Regions from separate parts of the Homo sapiens genome. Here region 1 is reported to be linked to region 2. Evidence: microRNA targets listed by miRTarBase, many of them from high-throughput screens and not tested one by one. Region 2 holds a microRNA gene; the other region holds the end of a gene's coding sequence.
The links. The annotated mature microRNA hsa-miR-4501 reads UAUGUGACCUCGGAUGAAUCA and lies in region 2 at 2,910-2,930, opposite strand. An mRNA with a match to its seed (bases 2 to 7 or 8) in the 3' UTR can be bound and repressed. Matches are read on the target gene's strand: a 7mer-m8 pairs with bases 2 to 8, a 7mer-A1 pairs with bases 2 to 7 and ends in A, and an 8mer does both.

Region 1 (4,264 bases), not on the chromosome of region 2:
CGAGGGGGAGACAAAGGCCCTACTTTCAGAGGTTCCCCAGTCCAAGAGGGGAGTCAGAAGCCCATCTGCAGGGACTCATTTGCAGGTGCCATCTCAGGGGTGGTTTACCCCAGACAGGCTTCTGAGCCTGTTGGAGAGTCTTAGAGGATGTTATGTCTCCAGGCCTACTCACTGCAGCACAGCAAGGAGGACCGGCTGGCGTATCTGAACCATCTCCCAGGAGGGGAGCTGATGATCCAGCTGTTCTTCGTGCTGTATGGCATCCTGGCCCTGGCCTTTCTGTCAGGCTACTACGTGACCCTCGCTGCCCAGATCCTGGCTGTACTGCTGCCCCCTGTCATGCTGCTCATTGATGGCAATGTTGCTTACTGGCACAACACGCGGCGTGTTGAGTTCTGGAACCAGATGAAGCTCCTTGGAGAGAGTGTGGGCATCTTCGGAACTGCTGTCATCCTGGCCACTGATGGCTGAGTTTTATGGCAAGAGGCTGAGATGGGCACAGGGAGCCACTGAGGGTCACCCTGCCTTCCTCCTTGCTGGCCCAGCTGCTGTTTATTTATGCTTTTTGGTCTGTTTGTTTGATCTTTTGCTTTTTTAAAATTGTTTTTTGCAGTTAAGAGGCAGCTCATTTGTCCAAATTTCTGGGCTCAGCGCTTGGGAGGGCAGGAGCCCTGGCACTAATGCTGTACAGGTTTTTTTCCTGTTAGGAGAGCTGAGGCCAGCTGCCCACTGAGTCTCCTGTCCCTGAGAAGGGAGTATGGCAGGGCTGGGATGCGGCTACTGAGAGTGGGAGAGTGGGAGACAGAGGAAGGAAGATGGAGATTGGAAGTGAGCAAATGTGAAAAATTCCTCTTTGAACCTGGCAGATGCAGCTAGGCTCTGCAGTGCTGTTTGGAGACTGTGAGAGGGAGTGCGTGTGTTGACACATGTGGATCAGGCCCAGGAAGGGCACAGGGGCTGAGCACTACAGAAGTCACATGGGTTCTCAGGGTATGCCAGGGGCAGAAACAGTACCGGCTCTCTGTCACTCACCTTGAGAGTAGAGCAGACCCTGTTCTGCTCTGGGCTGTGAAGGGGTGGAGCAGGCAGTGGCCAGCTTTGCCCTTCCTGCTGTCTCTGTTTCTAGCTCCATGGTTGGCCTGGTGGGGGTGGAGTTCCCTCCCAAACACCAGACCACACAGTCCTCCAAAAATAAACATTTTATATAGACATTTGGTTTTGCTTTTCTGTTCTCCCCAACAGGGAACTCTGCCATTGGCTGGGATTGATCTTGGGTTTCTTGAAACACTAGATCTGGTCAAGCCCCACCTTGGGCCTCCCGTGATCTTTCCCCTGTTCCAAGATTTCCCACAGTTCTTTGGCTCTCTCTCTTTCTTTTTTTTTTTAATTTTTCACTTCTTTATTTTTTAGAGACAAGGTCTCACTTTGTTGTCCAGGCTGGTTTCAGACTCCTTGGCTCAAGTGATTCTCCAGCCTCAGCCTCAGCCTCCCAAAGTGCTGGGACTACAGGCATAAGCCACTGTGCCCAGTGGCTCTCTTTTTCAAGAATCTCAAAATCCTCATTGTACTATATGCTTTCAATCCCTCACCTCAGTCCCTCTTGTTGTAGGTTGTCTTTTTCTCCCCATTTGGAGCTGGTTCTTATGAAGACATCTTTGGTGAGAGCAGCTAGAGGGAGAGAACTGTGAAGTGTCCACTGTGAAGTGGAATATTTTACACTTTATACATGAAGGAAATGGAGGCTCAGAGAGGATAAGCAGTTTCGGTCAAGCCACAGAGCAAATCCAGCCCACAGAGCTGGATTCCAGGTCAGGTCTGTCTAATGGTGAAGTCCAGATATGTACTCACTGTGACCCATCTCCTGAGGGGAGACAGAGGCTGCTCTATTCCAGCCCCTACTGTGCCATGATGGTCTCCCTGTTGACCTTCTCCCTTTTTTTTTGAGACGGAGTCTTGCTCTGTCACCTAGGCTGGAGTGCTGTGGCGTGATCTCTGCTCACTGCAAGCTCCGCTTCCCGGGTTCATGCCATTCTCCTGCCTCAGCCTCCCGAGTAGCTGGGACTACGGTTTTGTTTGTTTGTTTGTTTTTTGTTTTTTTTGAGACAGAGTCTCACTGTCACCCAGGCTGGAGTGCTGTGGTGTGATCTCGGCTCACTGCAACCTCTGCCTCCCGGGTTCAAGTGATTCTCCTGCCTCAGCCTCCTGAGTAGCTGGGATTACAGGTGCCCGCCACCATGCCTGGCTAATTTTTTTTTTTTTTGAGACGGAGTCTCGCTCTGTCGCCCAGGCTGGAGTGCAGTGGTGCGGTCTTGGCTCACTGCAAGCTCCGCCTCCCAGGTTCACGCCATTCTCCTGCCTCAGCCTCCTGAGTAGCTGGGACTACAGGCGCCCGCCACCACGCCCAGCTAATTTTTTGTATTTTTAGTAGAGATGGGGTTTCACTGTGTTAGCCAAGATGGTCTCGATCTCCTCACCTCGTGATCCACCCGCCTCGGCCTCCTAAAGTGCTGGGATTACAGGCGTGAGTCATCGCATCCGGCGACCTTCTCCCTTCTTGTCTATGTGTCTGCCAGAAAGTCACCCCAGCAGCAGCCGGTATGGTGCCTGCTACATTATGGAGCTTCAAAAAATGTCAAATGAAACCCCTGGGCTTTGGATTTCTGCCCATCGAGTCCTGTAGAGACTGGACACAACCACTAGTAGGGCCTAGGGGAAAACGTCCAAGTTTGAGCTTTTAAGCCAAAGCCATCTTTTAACTTCTCTGGGCTCTTGCAGGTAAACGGTCCGCCACTGATGCCTGGGTCTGGCTGTGAGCCCAGCCTAGAAAGGGAGCTGTGGGTGGAGGCACTCACAGGCAAGGGGAGCTGGGGCTGCTGTGGCCTGGTCTGTGGAAGGGAGGATGCTTCCTAATCTCTGGGAGGGAGATGGTGGCAGCATTCATCATAGAAGTCTTCTACTCCCTCCAGGAGTCCCCTGATTCCCCAGCCCTCAAGATCTTGCTCCCAGCCTGTAATCCTAGCATTTTGGGAGGCCAAGCAGGGAGGATTGCTTGAGCCCAGGAGTTTGAGAGCAGCCTTGGCAACATAGTGAGACCTCGTCTCTACCAAAAAAAAAAGATCCAGGTGTGGCGGTGCATGCCTGTGGTACCAGCTTATTTAGGAGGCTGACATGGGAGGATTGCTTGAGCCTGGGAGGTCAAGGCTGCAGTGAGCTGTGATTGCACCACTGTACTCTAGCCTTGGTAACAGAGCAAGATCCTGTCTTTAAAAAAAAAAAAAAAATCTTGCTCCCACGGGGTCACTTCTAATTTTCTTTCAAGTGTAAGCTGACTCTCAGACAAGTATTTGCATTTTAATCAAGGCCTCCTGAAAAACTGCAAGACCCAAAGGAATTAAAATGAATGGTAGAATATCACGCAGGCAGGGGTATTATTTTGGGTAAGGGAGCCTCAAAACATAGCACAGAGGCACAGAAACTAGCTCACCCTTAGGGTTAGTCCTGAGTAGAGCCCTGGAAGGCACCCTCCCCTCCCCTAATCCCCAGGTTGAAAATCGAAGGCCATTTGGTTGTAGCTTTAGAGTGAGTCGAGTTGGGGTCCTAGACTGGTCCCCTTCTTTCCTGTGCTTGTCCCACTTCAGCGCCTCCTCTGGGCAGAGCTGGGGCTGCTTTCTCCTCTGCAGATCACTCAGCCAACAAGCCCCCTTCAGCCTGTGGCTGGCTGCCTGGGGTCATGCCCAGCTGGCATGGCTTTTGGTCCACCCTGGCCATTCCAGGGCCTGTAGTGTCCATGGTGAGGGTCAGCTGCCTGGGTCAGAAGCTGGCTTGTGAAAGGAGTCTGGCAGTCCCTTGGCGTGGTTGACCAACTCATAGGAGTCCCGGATATCAGCCAGGCCAAACCAGAAGAAGATCCACTGCTTGTTGGAGAAGCTGCCATCACTGTGTTTGAAGTACCTGGGTGTGGGGAGGTGATGTAGGAAACAGTTTTTAGGGCAAGGCCAGTGTTCATTACTCACTGGTTCTGTCTTTAAAAAACATTGATTGAGGACCTACTGCATGCTGGGCACCCAGCTTGGTCCTGCTGTGTGTTATCTCATTTTATCCTCACAGCAGAGGCCTGAGCCTGGCATTGTGATGCTCAGCTCACAGAGAAGCAGCTAAGGCTCAGAGAAGTTAGGTACCTTGCCAGGCGCACACAGGAAGGGAGCGGGTGCTTTGCTCTCCACACTGCCTTGGCTGTGCAGCAAAGAGGAGGGTTCTTGCTCAC
Region 2 (4,264 bases):
AAAAAAGGGTAATACCCCAAATTAGAACTCAAAGCCTGTAGCATCCACAGCTATGCTAAGACGCTAGCTGCAATGTTGTCTCAGAGGATGAACACACAGCAAGTACATTAAATCAAATTGTGAAAGCATAGTGATCAGCGTCAATTTAGATTCTATGAATGAGCCCCTATATTTTATCATGCCTTTCTGTCAGGGTTTATTATTTGTTAAGGGGTTTAAATCTACAATAGAAAAATATTTCTGTAAAATCCAGTAACACACAGTGGCTAACCATAGCTGAATTTTATAAACTACAATTTGTCAAATAATTCATGCTTTTTCCCAAACACAAGAGCCTGCATTATTCTGACAACAAAAAAAGAGTTTTCCTACTCCCTATAATTTTCTATCGAACCTACAGACTATCTGCTTTACCTGAATTCTTAGAGGGTTAGGAATTTAAGCTTAAAAACCACTTTGTGTTAGGAAATGTAAAGTCTTACAGCTAAAGGGCTGAAAATATAATTTCTCTGGACTTCAAATAACACCACATATACACCAGCTCAGGTTGAGCAAAGAACACTGTACTCTTTAGACATGTCTAGGGAATGAACTTATACAGGGAAGAAAGTAGCTGTCGATCAAACTAACAATTATTGTGCAGCAAGCTCTGTTCTAAATCTTCTAAATTTACATTAGTAAATCTACCAAAATTACATATAGTAGCTCAGTTAACTCCCCCAAAAATGAGACTGTTAGTGTTTTCACGAGGGCTAAGTTCTTTGTCTAAGATCATGTAGTGGAATAGTAACTTGGTATTTAAAACAGATATATCTAACTTCAATCCAATGTTCATTTTATAATATCACGCTGCTTCTATAGGTAACCTTTCGGTATTTAACCACTGTTTCTATCAGGAAATTTTTATTCTATTCTAATCTGAGCCTCATTCATTGTCACTTAAGCCTGTTTAATTAAAAGCTGTTCTTGTAAAGTTTCGAAACAGCTGGTCACTGTCCTTGGTTTAACAGCTCATGCACATACAGTACTCAAAGATAATTAAATCCCCCATCAGCAATTTCTTCTTTTGGCTGAATAAGCCCTTTTCAATGTTTCTTTGAAAAAAATTTCTGTGCCTTTAAATATCTTGCAACATCACCATAGCACGTTGAGTTTTACAGCTGTAATATGGGCACGTGATTTTCTTATAGTCATTTATAACTACAAGGACCATTCCTACCCATCCCCATCGTGTTCTTCCACCATATTCTATTTACTGCTTAAGCAGCTTGGTTCTCCCATTGAGCATTTTTGTCCTCATCGAGCTTCATTATGTTTGCTGTGATGGTTTTCTCCACTTTGCCAAGAAGCTGCTTCTATTTCTAAGGAGCACTGCAGAGCACTTGCATTCCTGGTTAAATCTTTTGCCTGTTCTATTTCAGTCTATGTTCTTACTTGATAAGCACCTGGAATGGGCTGAATTGCCACCCCCAAATTCATATATTGAAGTCCTATCTCCTTGTACCTGACATTATTTGAAGATTGGGTCTTTAAAGAGGTAACTAGATTAAATGAGGTCATTGGGGTGGGCCCTAATCCAATGACTGGTGTCCTTTTGAGAAGAGGAGGTTAGGACACAGACACACACACAGAAGGTAAGACTATATAAAGACACCATGAGAAGATGGACATTTACAAGCCAAGGAGAGAGACCACAAAAGAAACCAACCCTGCTGACACCCTGATTTCAGACCTCCAGTCTCCAGAACTCTGAGAAAATAAGATTTTATTTATTAAACCACCCAGTCCGTGATACTTTTTTTGTTTGTTTTTTGAGACGGAGTCTCGCTCTGTCGCCCAGGCTGGAGTGCAGTGGTGCGGTCTAAGCTCACTGCACCTCCGACTCCCTGTCAAGCGATTCTTCTGCCTCAGCCTCCTGAGTAGCTGGGACTACAGGTATGTGCCACCATGCCCGGCTAATTTTTTTTGTATTTTTAGTAGAGATGGGGTTTCATCATGTAAGCCAGGACAGTCTTGATCTCCTGAACTGGTGATCTGCCCACCACATCTGTGATACTTTCTATGGCAGCCTTATCAAACTAATATAGCACCCTCAAATGTGTCTCATATCCCTAACTATTATTAATTATGTAAAGAACCCCACAGATACCAACATCATGTACCCCTCATATTGAAAAGGGTACATTACTTCTATGGTATTGTTGCCAAAAATGCCTAAACTCAATCTGTCCATGAGTAGGCATCAGATAATCCCAAATTGTGAGGTATTCTAGAACACAACTGATCAGTACTCTCAAAGTGTCAAGGTCAAGAAAGCAAGACAAGTCCAAGAATTGCCACAGATTGTAGGAGTCAAAGGAAACATAAAAACTAAATGCAATGTGGGATCCTGGATTCGATCCTGGAACAGACAAAGGATCTTTATGGAGCTCTGGTGAAATAATAGCATTGTACCAATGTAGATTTCTCAGTTCTAATAAAGGTCCTATAATTATGCAAGATGTTAAATATTAGGGAAAGCTGAATAAAGGATATACAAAAACTCTCAGTTCTATCTTTGTAATGTTTTTGTAATGCTAAATTTATTTCAAAATTAAAATAATATATCATAATATAAATAATGTATTATAAAAGTAATATGTACTATGACTAATAATATAAAAATCAAATAACAAAATAAATGAACTAATAAAACACCACCAGTGGAGAAAAATCACATATTTTCATCATTGTGAAGTCTTCCCTGAAATAAACTCTATATTAAAAAAGGAGGGGAGAAAGAAGCTAACCTTCATTGAGATCTACTGATACTGAGTATTTGACAGGTACTATCTTATTTAATCCTCACAATAGCACTATCACTTATAAAATGTGACATCTGATGAAACAGAAGCTCAGACATATTTCAGTGATTCATCCGAGGTCACATAACAAGTGATAGACTGGAATTCAGACCCAGCTCCATTTAATTCCAATGCACCATGTTTGTTCTCCTGGTTAAGTATGAATTTCTATGTCCCCACCAACTATACTTTCACCTAAGTATATCCGTTCTAACTATGGATTTCATTCTTAGCCAAATATTGGAATCACCTGGGAAGCTTTAAAAATTCCTGAGGCTCAAATCCTACCCCCAATTCTGCTGTAATTATTTCAAGATTTGATTGGACCTCAGAATTTTTACATTATCCCCAGATATTTCATATGTGTAGAGAACAACTCTACTAGTTTATCAATGTTAATGTTATACAGAACAGAACTAAAACCCTTGCAAAAGATAGGCAGTCATATTTATCATTTATTCAGGAGTAAGCATGTATCACCAAAATCAATTAAGTTCAACTTGTGCAACATACTATTTAAGGAAACAAGCAAAAGAAATTCTTTAAAAGACACATGGAGAACAGGGACCAACTTCAGAAGAGCTCTCATCAGCTAACTGCATAGAGCACCAGGAACACAGAAGCAGTTGACTCCAGAGATAAATCTCAAAACCCTTTCAATAAAGAGAAGAAAGTAGCAATCATTTTACTAAAAAAAGTCAAATGACTTACTGTCTCGGATTTTAATTTCCTCTAGTCCCTTTAAAATGGCAAAGGGAAACCATCAAGCTATGTAAGACTCTAATTGAAAATAAACATTTTCCTACTTTTGAGTGGAATTAAAGCTGGGAAAAACTGAATTGCTTCAAGGTGAGGAATGAAACAGAAAGAAACATCAAGAAAGCTGCAATGAGAGTATTTGGAAACCATTCTGTTTGCTGAATTGTCAGCCATGCAAGCACTTATAGACAATTACAACCTTAGAAAACAAATAAAAAGTGTGTAAGTAGGCACTTTGATGCTTCCTCCTAATTATAGGCTTTACGAGCTGGATTCAAAAAACACAAATAGAGGCAGTGCGAACAATATAACCCTGAAATGAGGTTATGAAGCTTATTAGCTTTACATAATTACACAGCTGTGACAGGTTGACGAGACCCCTGCCTGAAGCAGGGGTCTTACAGCAAGGTGGCCATTTTTTTTTTAATTTTACCCTTTTTAAAAATACAATTTAGGTTGAATCATGGACTAACCAATATTTGACCTACACAAGTGGCTATTTCCTATTTTGTGTTTCCATATGAAGATCTCCTTCATCTCTCTGGGGGTTCTCGGGGGGCACTGACTTGTTTTTCTCTATCCTTTGAAACATCCACAGCACCAAGCAGACGTGTGTGAATAACAGAGCATGCTCAGTAAGGGCTTGTGCAATAAATGAAAGA

Region 1: the mRNA of TMEM101 is a reported target of hsa-miR-4501. Seed matches in the 3' UTR shown: 7mer-m8 at 973-979.

The regions. Positions count from the first base shown.
Region 1 is chr17:44,008,135-44,012,398 of GRCh38, reverse strand. It overlaps TMEM101 (transmembrane protein 101), which reads left to right. Exons shown (of 4, transcript NM_032376.4): 4 at 163-1,211. The coding sequence ends at 471. It overlaps NAGS (N-acetylglutamate synthase), which reads right to left. Exons shown (of 7, transcript NM_153006.3): 7 at 3,331-3,951. The coding sequence ends at 3,798. Among named protein-coding and RNA genes, the nearest start is that of TMEM101, 4.7 kb to the left of the region's middle. RefSeq lists a silencer at 844-1,138.
Region 2 is chr13:96,425,895-96,430,158 of GRCh38, reverse strand. It overlaps MIR4501 (microRNA 4501), which reads right to left and starts at 2,930; the gene lies at 2,867-2,930. The region is part of intron 1 of HS6ST3 (heparan sulfate 6-O-sulfotransferase 3); the gene reads right to left.